Homo sapiens: one gene and its partners. The protein of the gene in region 1 purifies or fractionates together with the protein of each later gene. This does not show direct contact. Each region holds a gene or a part of one and is shown in the gene's direction. Other genes may lie near its edges.

What was found.
Region 2: the proteins of EN1 (region 1) and THUMPD3 purify together in Homo sapiens (affinity purification with mass spectrometry; one large-scale study listed by BioGRID and IntAct). This does not show direct contact.
Region 3: the proteins of EN1 (region 1) and ANKHD1-EIF4EBP3 purify together in Homo sapiens (affinity purification with mass spectrometry, with the first as the bait; one large-scale study listed by BioGRID). This does not show direct contact.

What each region holds. Positions count from the first base shown.
Region 1 is NC_000002.12:118,845,486-118,849,235, reverse strand, and holds the start of EN1 (homeobox protein engrailed-1), read left to right. Parts: upstream 1-1,587; 5' UTR 1,588-2,068; coding exon 2,069-2,930; intron 2,931-3,750. UniProt on the Homo sapiens protein: Required for proper formation of the apical ectodermal ridge and correct dorsal-ventral patterning in the limb.
Region 2 is NC_000003.12:9,369,515-9,373,164, forward strand, and holds part of THUMPD3 (tRNA (guanine(6)-N(2))-methyltransferase THUMP3), read left to right. Parts: intron 1-1,545; coding exon 1,546-2,022; intron 2,023-3,650. UniProt on the Homo sapiens protein: Catalytic subunit of the THUMPD3-TRM112 methyltransferase complex, that specifically mediates the S-adenosyl-L-methionine-dependent N(2)-methylation of guanosine nucleotide at position 6 (m2G6) in tRNAs.
Region 3 is NC_000005.10:140,404,732-140,408,381, forward strand, and holds part of ANKHD1-EIF4EBP3 (ANKHD1-EIF4EBP3 protein), read left to right. Parts: intron 1-3,650. UniProt on the Homo sapiens protein: May play a role as a scaffolding protein that may be associated with the abnormal phenotype of leukemia cells. Isoform 2 may possess an antiapoptotic effect and protect cells during normal cell survival through its regulation of caspases.

The sequences.
Region 1 (3,750 bases):
GCGAGGAGGTCCGCTGGAGCTCTAAGATGACACCCCCGAAGGCCTCGTTTGCTGACGCCTTTCTCGGCCACCGCAGGCTTCAGCATAGTCGGATACTGGTCCTCCAAAACGAATCCGGAGACAAGTCCCGCAGGTGCCTAGAGCTTCAGTCCACACGCCACCCCCGTCCCTCACATTCCCGGTTATGAGAAAATTTTGGGGGTGCCTCGACCAGGAAATAGCGAAAAAGAGATCGGCAGACGGGAGAATGATAGCAGCTGGAGGAACGGCATTTCCCTCAAACTAGGGAAGAACGCACAGAGCTGGAGCCGGAGGCACCCAGGGAGTTGGGAGCAATCCCAGGAAATTCAGTCACCCGGCAATTGAGGGAAACTCCCTGTTCACAACTTCAGCTAGCCAGGGCAAATACTTGGGGTGCAGCGCTTTCATTTATTTGATTTTACTTTGCAGGGAAATCTAACACAGAGGTTACCCTGAACTCTAAAAGCTAGGGCCTAGCGCGCATCCGCGTTCTGACTCGCCGGCCCCGGGGCCCTCCTGAGATTAATCTGCGTTGCCCGGACTCCCACTGCCAGGGAAGGTCCAGGCAACTGGCTCTGGGGCTATTCCTAGCCCTCTGGGCTTGGCTCTATGGCGCCAGGGCAGCTCCAGGGTGTTGTCGAAAGTCTGGACCGGGAAGGGCATGGGTGCGGATTCCCCACAAAGGGAAAGCAATGCAGCGGGCCGGCAGGAGACGTACAAACGTAAACGTGCGACGCTAGCTAGGCGCAGCGGGCCTTTCAGATTTTGCTATTTGTGAAAAACAAATTGCGCCTCTGAAAGTAACCAACTCTAGGTCTATTTCACATCACCGACCTCCCTGTCTCACTCCCCCTCCCTCCACTACACACACCCAAACCCACACCCACCCACAAACACACAAACCGGCAGTGACAACAACCACCCATCCTTCAATAACAGCAACCAGAGACAGAGGAGAAAATAAAAAGCTGAGTTTCTTAGGCGTGGGGGTGCAAAACAGCCAGGCTCCTGCCTACTGCCCCTGCTCCCGTAGCTCACAGACCCATAATCCTGCATTTCTCTAACAAGTTGTTTATGGAGTTGCTTCTCCATTTGCCTACATCCCAAAATTCACCCCTCCCGGGTTTCTTCTGCCCCCTCCTGAGTCCCGGCCTGAAGGAGGGGGAGGGACGCGGGTGCGGGCGCGGGTGGGGGAGGGCGGACCCGACGCACAGGGCCAGCGCCGAGGCGCCCCCTCTCCGCCAGCGGTTGACGCCCCCGGATTATTTATCCGCAAAGTCCCGCGCGCGCCCATTGGGCCGAGGCCCGAGTGTCAGCGCGAGTCCCGGCTCGCCATTGGCTCCGCACACGTGCGGCCCTGACTCACGTGCTTCCGGTTTGAAGGCAAAAAGTGTGCCTGGGTGATTTTTTTTTTAAGCGAGAGAGTTTGTGCAAAGATCCGAGCTGTCAGAGATTTGAAAAAAAAAAAAAAAAAAAAAAAAAAAAAAACAGCCCGGCGCTGGCGGAGACGCGCTCTCCCTGCAAAAAAAGCAAAGGCGATTAAAGGCGCTGCCAGCCTCACGCTCTGGGCACAGCTGAGCGTGACACTCGGGGAAGTCAAACCCCTCACTACTGCCTAGGAAGATGGCTAGACTTTAAATACTATTTTTTTCCCTTTAAGAAAAAAATTATTGGAGCTTTTTTTCTTGCTTTCTTTTTCCTTTTCTTTTTCTTTTTTTCCTTCATTTTTTTGGCCGTGGCTTACTCCCCATTTAAATCAAATCATTGAATCTGGTTGCAGAAAGAAAAAAGAAATAGCCAAGTGTCTCCATATCTGGATGTCTACAAATTAGAGAGGGAGAGACAGCGAGATCTATCTGCTAGATAAGAACGAGCGATCCAGGCCAGACGCCTGAGCTTTTTTCCTGCACCCGCCCCGTGCCTTCGCTGAGGCTTCGCCTGCCTCCTTCCTCCGCGCACCCCCACGGGCCGCTGGCAAAGTGGGGTGGGGAGCGAGGCGGTGGGGGCGGGGGCCGGCGCGGCGGCCGGGGCGGCGGGGCGGCCGAGCATGGAAGAACAGCAGCCGGAACCTAAAAGTCAGCGCGACTCGGCCCTCGGCGCGGCGGCGGCGGCGACTCCGGGCGGCCTCAGCCTGAGCCTCAGTCCGGGCGCCAGCGGCAGCAGCGGCAGCGGCAGCGATGGAGACAGCGTGCCGGTGTCCCCGCAGCCTGCGCCCCCCTCGCCGCCCGCGGCGCCTTGCCTGCCGCCCCTGGCCCACCACCCGCACCTCCCCCCACACCCCCCGCCCCCGCCGCCTCAGCATCTCGCGGCGCCTGCTCACCAGCCGCAGCCAGCGGCCCAGCTGCACCGCACCACCAACTTTTTCATCGACAACATCCTGAGGCCGGACTTCGGCTGCAAAAAGGAGCAGCCGCCACCGCAGCTTCTGGTGGCTGCGGCGGCCAGAGGAGGCGCAGGAGGAGGAGGCCGGGTCGAGCGTGACAGAGGCCAGACTGCCGCAGGTAGAGACCCTGTCCACCCGTTGGGCACCCGGGCGCCAGGCGCTGCCTCGCTCCTGTGCGCCCCGGACGCGAACTGTGGCCCACCCGACGGCTCCCAGCCAGCCGCCGCCGGCGCGGGCGCGTCTAAAGCTGGGAACCCGGCTGCGGCGGCGGCGGCGGCCGCGGCGGCAGTGGCGGCGGCGGCGGCGGCCGCAGCAGCCAAGCCCTCGGACACCGGTGGCGGCGGCAGTGGAGGCGGCGCGGGGAGCCCCGGAGCGCAGGGCACCAAATACCCGGAGCACGGCAACCCGGCTATCCTACTTATGGGCTCAGCCAACGGCGGGCCCGTGGTCAAAACTGACTCGCAGCAGCCTCTCGTATGGCCCGCCTGGGTGTACTGCACACGTTATTCGGATCGTCCATCCTCCGGTGAGTACCCAACTCCGGGCTGCGCCATGCCTTCTGGCCCCGCGGACCGCCCCAGAACGCCAAGCTGCGGCGCTAGGGAGAGCAAACCCGGCCTCGGGTACTCCAGTCTCTCACGCCTGCTTCCTCACCCCAGTTCCAGTCACAACCGAATGTTCATCCAGCTATGCGATCCTGGCCTCTGCGGCCACCACCCGAGAAGCTACAGCTCGTGGCACAGGAGGCTCGGGTCTCGATTCTTTGATTTTGAACTCTGAATCCCTGGGGCCTTCTTTGTCTCTTATCTTTATTATTCTTAGGAAAAGTACATAGTCAGTGATTTTCTTTCCAGGGTGTTTAGATAAGGCAGGAAGGTGGGCCTAGTGATGTGTGTCTGAAATCCCACCAGCCTGATCGTCCGAAGGCCAGATTTGACCAGAGAAGGCCTTGTTCAGAAAAATTATATTCACTGTGTGTCCTTACAGACACAAACACCATCTCGATATTTTCTGCGGAGAGACCGTTTACATTGATAAACATGGGAAACACAGGAAGACAGGGAGGAAAGCGTCTGAAAGCCGTCCCTCTCCCCCGGCTGGGTAGCGAAAAGAGTCTGACCCGGGTGGGTAGAAACCAGGGAAAGGCAGTTGCCAAAAAGGTGGGTGCTGGCAGCCCCTGGTTTTCTGGAGCTGAAAAACAGTGGGAGAGGAGAGAAAACAGGTCAGGCTCAGGCCAGGAAGCGTGTCCAAGGGCATGAGAGCCAGTTTCCTCCGTAGCTTCTCCGCGGAACGGTTCCCGCATCCTCCCCGCGCGGCGCTTTCCTTTTTTCACCCGCACATCCAGC
Region 2 (3,650 bases), on another chromosome or scaffold:
CTGTGTGGCATCATGTTGGCACTTCAAAAAAATTTTAGGTTTTGGATTTTGGACTTTGAGATTAGGAATGTTCAACCTATATGTTGGAGATCCTGGCAGTATCATTGCTGGAATTGGCTGCGTATACTCCATTGTTTGGCTGTATAATAATTTAACCAGTCCCATTTTAGGGCATGAGGGTTTTTCACATTCTTTTGCTATTACAGTGGTGCAACAAATACACTATGTAAATTCTTGTACATATTCAAACTGAGTGTCATCTTTGTGTTTATCCCATTGATACTTATTGATAATGACAACTGTTTAGTCTTAGTTTTGTCATGCTCATACTTTTTGTTTTTTCTTAATTTGAAAAATCTTTACATTATGTCTTTACTTTTTTCATATGCCTGTGTTTTCTAATAGTTTGGAAGGTTTATGTGTGTGTGTTCTAGCTGTTACCTTTATAACTACAATTTGATATTATCTACCTTATCTACCATATATACACGGTATTTTTTGAATCCCTGCTAAAAGCAATGATGAAATTGGCATATTTATACTTTTTTCCTTTATTTTTCAGTTATTTTTCTTAGTGTTCACCCTTAAACTTTTAAATATACTTACATTTTATTTATCAGCTTTAACTTCTATCCTTTGACCTCTGGGTGTAAGAGATGAGGGTATCAGTATGCCCATTTACATGCCAGTTTGTAACATTTACCTTCTGCTTTATAATCACAATCCCTACACTTGTTTTCATTTTAGTGATATAATTAAATAGATTATAGGCACATTATTTGTCCTTTTGTTATAATTTGTATCTGTTGAATGGCATGAGTTCAGAAATGTTTGTCTTTCACCTTTATATTTGGCTGATAGTTTGGGTATAAAATTTGGAGTTAGGCTTTCTTTCCTTAAGAATATTGTAGTCAGTGTTCATTCTCTTTTGTAAAAGATTTATTTTTTTAGACAAGATCTTGCTCTGTTGTCTAAGCTGGAGTGCATTGGCGTGATCATAGCTCATTGGAGCCTTGACCTCCCAGGCTCAAGCAGTCCTCCCATCTCAGCTTCCTGAGTAGCTGGGACTACAGGCACGTGCCACCATGCCCAGTTAATTTTTGTATTTTTTTGTGGAGACAGAGTTTTGCCATGTTGCCCAGTCTGGTCTCAAACTCCTAAGTTCAAGTGATCCACTTGCTTCAGCTTCCTAAAGTGCTGGGATTACAGGCATGAGCCACCATATCCAGCCCAGACTTTTTTTCTTGTCATTATTTCCCAAACAATACAGTATAACAACTATTTCCATAGCATTTACATTGTATCAGGTATCATAGGTAAGATAGAGATGATTTAAGTTACTCTTGAGAGGATGTGTGTAGGTCATATGTAGACACTATACCATTTTATATGAGGGACTTTTGAGCATCTTTGGGTTTTGGTGTCTTTGGCGGTCCTGGAACCAGTGTCCCCCACGGATACCAACTGTCCATAAGCAAAGTAGAGGTTTATTTGTTTGATTATAGTGGTGAGAAATGAATGAATTTCTTTCTCTGTCCTTTACAGGAAGAAGTTCTAAAGGATTTTGAAGACTTGGCTGGAAAACTCCCATGGTCAAACCCCTTAAAAGTGTGGAAAATTAATGCCAGTTTTAAAAAGAAAAAAGCAAAGCGCAAAAAGATAAATCAGAATTCAAGTAAAGAGAAGATTAATAATGGACAAGAAGTCAAAATCGATCAGAGAAATGTTAAAAAAGAGTTCACTAGCCATGCTTTAGATTCTCATATCTTAGATTATTATGAAAATCCAGCCATCAAAGAGGATGTATCAACATTAATAGGTGATGATTTGGCATCTTGCAAAGATGAGACTGATGAAAGCTCAAAAGAAGAAACTGAGCCTCAAGTGCTGAAGTTTAGAGTCACATGCAACAGGGCAGGAGAGAAACATTGCTTTACCTCAAATGAGGCTGCAAGAGATTTTGGGGGTGCTGTTCAAGATTATTTTAAGTGGAAGGCCGACATGACCAACTTTGATGTGGAGGTAGGTATAGGCTCTGACTGTGGTGATTGAAGAATGCTGTCACAGATTTGTAGAATTTCCAGACTAACCCAATGTTATGCACAATTAAACTGAGGAAATAGTAGGGTGTGGTTAAGAAGAGCATAGGCTATGGAGACAGATTTAGATCCAAATTTTAACTCCACAACTGTATAACTTTGGACTAGATAGTCTCTGAGCCTCTGTTTCAAATGGAGCCAATAATATTATGTACCTTTAAGGTTATCCTGAAGGATAAATGAGGTACATTTAAAATATTTGGTGCAATACCTTGCATACACTAAGTGCTCCATAGATGGAAGCCATCAAGGTTGAGTTGTCTGTTTTCTTTTTCTTTTTCGAGACAGAGTCTTGCTCTGTCACCCAGGCTAGAGTGCAGTGGTACGATCTCAGCTCACTGCAGCCTCCACCTTCCTGGTTCAAGTGATTCTTGTGCTCAGCCTCCCAAGTAGCTGGGGCTACAGGCACATGCCACCACACCTGGCTAATTTTTGTATTTTTTAATAGACATGGGGTTTCACCCTGTTGGCCAGGCTGGTCTCAAACTCCTGTAGTGATCTGCCTGTCTTGGCCTCCCAAAGTGCTGGGATTATAGCTGCACCTGGCCTGATTTCTAATAGACTACTCTTTTACTATATTATATGGACTTTCATATTATAAAATTCAACCAGAATTAAAATAGTTATTTTGTTTTTGTGTGTCTTGGTTGCAGAGCTTTGCTACTGAAAAAATAAAATAAGGCTGGGCGCAGTGGCTCACGCCTGTAATCCCAGCACTTTGGGAGGGAGGCCGAGGCAGGTGGATCACTTGAGGTCAGGAATTTGAGACCAGCGTGGCCAATATGGTGAAACCCTGTCTCTACTAAAAATACAAAAATTGGCCCGTCATGATGGCACACTCCTGTGGTCCCAGCTACTGGGGAGGCTGAGGCAGGAGAATCACTTGAACCAGGGAGGTGGAGGTTGCAGTGAGCCAAGATCATGCCACTGCACTTCAGCGTGGGTGACAGAGCAAGACTCCATCTCCAAAAAAAAAAAAAGTGCATTTTTTAAACAAACCCTGACCTTCTCAAACCAGGACATCATTGCTAATACTCATCCTAGAGTCAGCTCTCCTCTTTCTTAAATTCTGCTAGATTTCCAAAGCCAGGTACCTCATTTTAGTATATTTACTTTCCTTGGTCTTAATCCTCTTTTATCTGGGTGATTGACATGTGAACCATAGGAACTAAAGTATTTAAGTCTCTGACACCTTAAAACATCTCTAGCAGCTGATATATTTACCAAAGAGTCAATTTCCGTTGCTTTTGGGACACTTGAATCTGGGGCAAGTCACTGATTCTAACTTTTTTGTGCATGTCAAATCAGGAGTCTAATTCCCCATTCCTTTTTTTCCTCATACACTGCCTTGCAAATGAATACGTGGCTCACACCTGTAATTCCAGTACTTTGGGAGGCCTTGGCAGGCAGATCGCTTGAGCCCAAGAATTTGAGACCAGCCTGGGCAAAATAGTGAGACCCTGTCTCCACTAAAAATAAAATAAATATTTTAAAAAATAAAATGAATAGGTTAACCAGAACAGTGATGTCTAAAAGTTAGCAAGGTGATTC
Region 3 (3,650 bases), on another chromosome or scaffold:
TTTTTTTTTTTTTGAGACAGGTTTTGCTATGTTGTCCAGGCTAGCCTCAAACTCCTGGGCTCGGGTGGTCCTCCTACCTCAGCCTCCTAAGTAGCTGGGACTATAGGCACACGCTACTGTGCCTGGCAACCATTTGCTTTTTTATAAGTAATAGTCTTAAATTTCTTCACAGGTAGAGCACTAGTTTGCCCCCAAAGTCATAAATTTGTCTCTCTCTCTTTCTGACTGTGCATGTCTGTGTGTGTGTGTGTGTGTGTGTGTGTGTGTGTGTGTGTGTGTGTGTATGTGTAATGGTCTTTGGAGTCTCCATACCATGTAATTAAAGCTATGGGCAGAATCCATGCCTTTTGTATTTTTGAAGCTTATTGTAGAAGTCATGTGTTGGTGATTCCTACACCCACTTAGTGGTGCCTAATGTTAGAAGAGCCCCATATTCTCCTGTTTACTTATGTTTTCTGTGCCTAAAAGGATTTACAGGTTAAGAGTACATGTAGACCTCATTTTTGGAATGGAAGTTTCTAGGATACCCACTTTAGCCTAATCTAAGATGATGCTTAGTGGGTGTATAGATGCTTTCTTAATCTGTGTAAGCAGGAAATTTTTTTTGGGTCCTGTTTCTCCCATATCACATAGAGAGGAAATTCTTGGAGTATCTAGTCTTTATAGTATGTGTGGTAGAGTATAGTCTGTGCCTTTGTGAATAAAATGACCTGTTTTGGCCAAGCAAAAATTTTCCCTTTTCTTTTTCTGTCTGACAAGATGAGCTGTCTTCTTTTATTATTATTGCCTTTGAATTTTCAGTGTGAAAAGGTAACAGTGTTCTTCAAAAAATACTCATGTAATTGGCATTTGATGAATAATACTAAAATCCTCCGTCTCATCTTTCCTAAATATTTTGTTTATTTTTATTTATTTTTTTGAGACAGGGTCTCATTCTGTCACCCAGGCTGGAGTGCAGTGGCACGATCTTGGCTCACTGCAACCTCCGCCTCCTGGGTTCAAGCGATTCTTCTGTCTCACCCTCCTGAGTAGCTGGGATTACAGATATCCACCACCACTCCCAGGTAATTTTTATATTTTTGGTAGAGACAGCGTTTTGTCACGTTGGCCAGGCTGGTCTCAAACTTCTGGCCTCAAGTGATTCTCCCACCTTGGTCTCCCAAAGTGTTGGGATTACAGGTGTGAGCCACCATGCCTGGCCTTCATTTTTCCTAAATATTTATAACCACCGGGCATGGTGGCTCACGCCTGTAATCACAGCACTTTGGGAGGCCAAGGCGGGTGGATCAGCTGAGGTCAGGAGTTAGAGACCAGCCTGGCCAACATGGCAAAATTCTGTCTCTATTAAAACAAAAAATTAGCCGGGCTTGGTGGAGGGCGCCTGTAATCTGAGTTACTCAGGAGGCTGAGGGAGGAGAATCGCTTGAACCCAGGAGGCAGAGGTTGCAGTGAGCCGAGATCACGCCACTGCCCTCCAGGCAGGGTGACAGAGAGAGACTCTGTCTCAAAAAAAAAAAAAAATAAATTATTTTAGAAACAAGTACCTAGACATCCAAAAAGATGATGAATTGGTGTGTAGTTTGGGAGTGAAGTTTGTCTTGTTGCTCTAATGGGGCAGGATTAGGTGAGAAATAAGAAATGTGGAGCCCTAGTATTTTTGCTCTAGAATTAGTTGGTCTTCTACATTTTGTGTACAGAGGAGTAGACCCTCTAAGGACCTCTTTATATTTAATATCAGAGCCAAGAGCTGAGAAAAAACAAGCTACTCTTTCTTGCTGGCCAAGCAAAAGACCTTTTGGTTAGAGGAATGGACTCACATCTTTCAGTACATTTTTTTTTTTTTTTTGAGATGGAGTCTTGTCGCCCAGGCTGGCACGATCTTAGCTCACTGCAACCTCTGCTTCCTGCATTCAAGTGATTCTCCTGCCTCAGTAGTGAGATTACAAGTGCGTGCCACCATGCCTGGCTAATTTTTCTATCTTTAGCAGAAATGGGGGTTTCACCATATTGGCCAGGCTGGTCTCGAACTCCTGACCTCAGGTGATCTGCTCGCCTAGGTCTCCCAAAGTGCTGGGATTACAGCCGTGAGTCACCCACCTGGCCCTTTTGTTATTTTAAACATTGGGGTAAATACCTGCTTCGTATTTCTTCAGGCATTCTTAGCATGTTTCTTAGCTATCGAAGCCCTTGATTAGAAGAGCTAGCACTGCATTGAATCCTATTAAGAAATGTATCCATGTTCAGAATAGAAGTTAGGTTAAAAATTTCTTAAAAACCACTTTAGGCCTGGTGCGGTGGCTAACGCCTGTAATCCCAGCACTTTGGGAGGCCGAGGTGGGTGGGTCACAAGATCAGGAGTTTGAGACCAGCCAGACCAACATGGTGAAACCCCATCTCTACTAAAAAACAAAAATTAGGTGGGCGTGGTGGCACGCACCTGCAATCTCAGCCTACTCAGGAGGCTGAGGCAGGAGAATTGCTTGAACCTGGGAGGCAGAAGTCGCAGTGAGCTGAGATCGCGTCACTGCACTCCAGCCTGGGTGACAGAGTGAGACTCCATCTCCAAAAAAAAAAAAAAAACCACTTTAAAAAATGGTTTTTATTTTAAATTTTTATTTATTTATTTTGAGATTAGGATTACAGGTGTGAGCCACCACACCCAGCCTATTTTTATTTATTTATTTATTTTTAGAGATGGGCTTTTGCTCTGTCACCCAGGCTGGAATGCAGTGGCATGATCATAGTTCACTGCAACCTCGAATTCCTGGGCTCAAGCAATCCTACTGCCTCAGCCTCCCAAAGAGCTAGGTCTAACTAGAGGTGTACTCCACCACTCCACCTGATTTAAAAAAAAAAAAATGTTGCCCAGGCTAGTCTTGAACTCCTGGCCTCAAGGGATCCTTCTGCCTGGGCCTCCAAAAATGCAGAGATTACAAGTTGTAAGCCACTGTGCCTGACCGAAAAACCAATTTTTAAATTTTAATTTTAGAATTGTGGTCTTTTAATTTTTTTAGCAAATCGAAATAAAAATACAGTTTCTAAAGAAAAGATTGTGTGAGACATGGTTTTCAATTTTTGTCGTAAGAATGAATGTGTGTGTATATGTGTGTTTGTGTGTGTATGTGTGTGTGTGACGGCCCTCTTTTAAAATTATTACAAAAGTGGCCGGGCGCGGTGGCTCACGCCTGTAATCCCACCACTTTGGGAGGCCAAAGCGGATGGATCATCTGAGGTCAGGAGTTTGAGACCAGCCTGGCCAACATGGTGAAAGCCTGTCTCTACTAAAAATACAAAAATTAGCTGGGTATGGTGGCAGGCGCCTGTAATCCTAGCCACTTGGGAGGCTGAGGCAGGAGAATCTCTTGAACCCGGGAGACGGAGGCTGCAGTCAGCCAAGATCATACCAGTGCACTCCAGTCTGGGTAACAGAGCAAGACTCCATCTCAAAAAATTAGAAAATAATAAAATTATTACAAAATAGTTACTTGTTGAAAAACTCAACAATATAGATAGTAGGTATAAGGGGAAAAGTAAAAGTGCTTCTTCCCACCCCCATTAATTCTTCAAATTCTACCCTTCAAGGTAACCAATATTAAAATTTTTCATTCAGTAAATTTTCTAGGCCTATCTTTCTATGTATATATGTATAT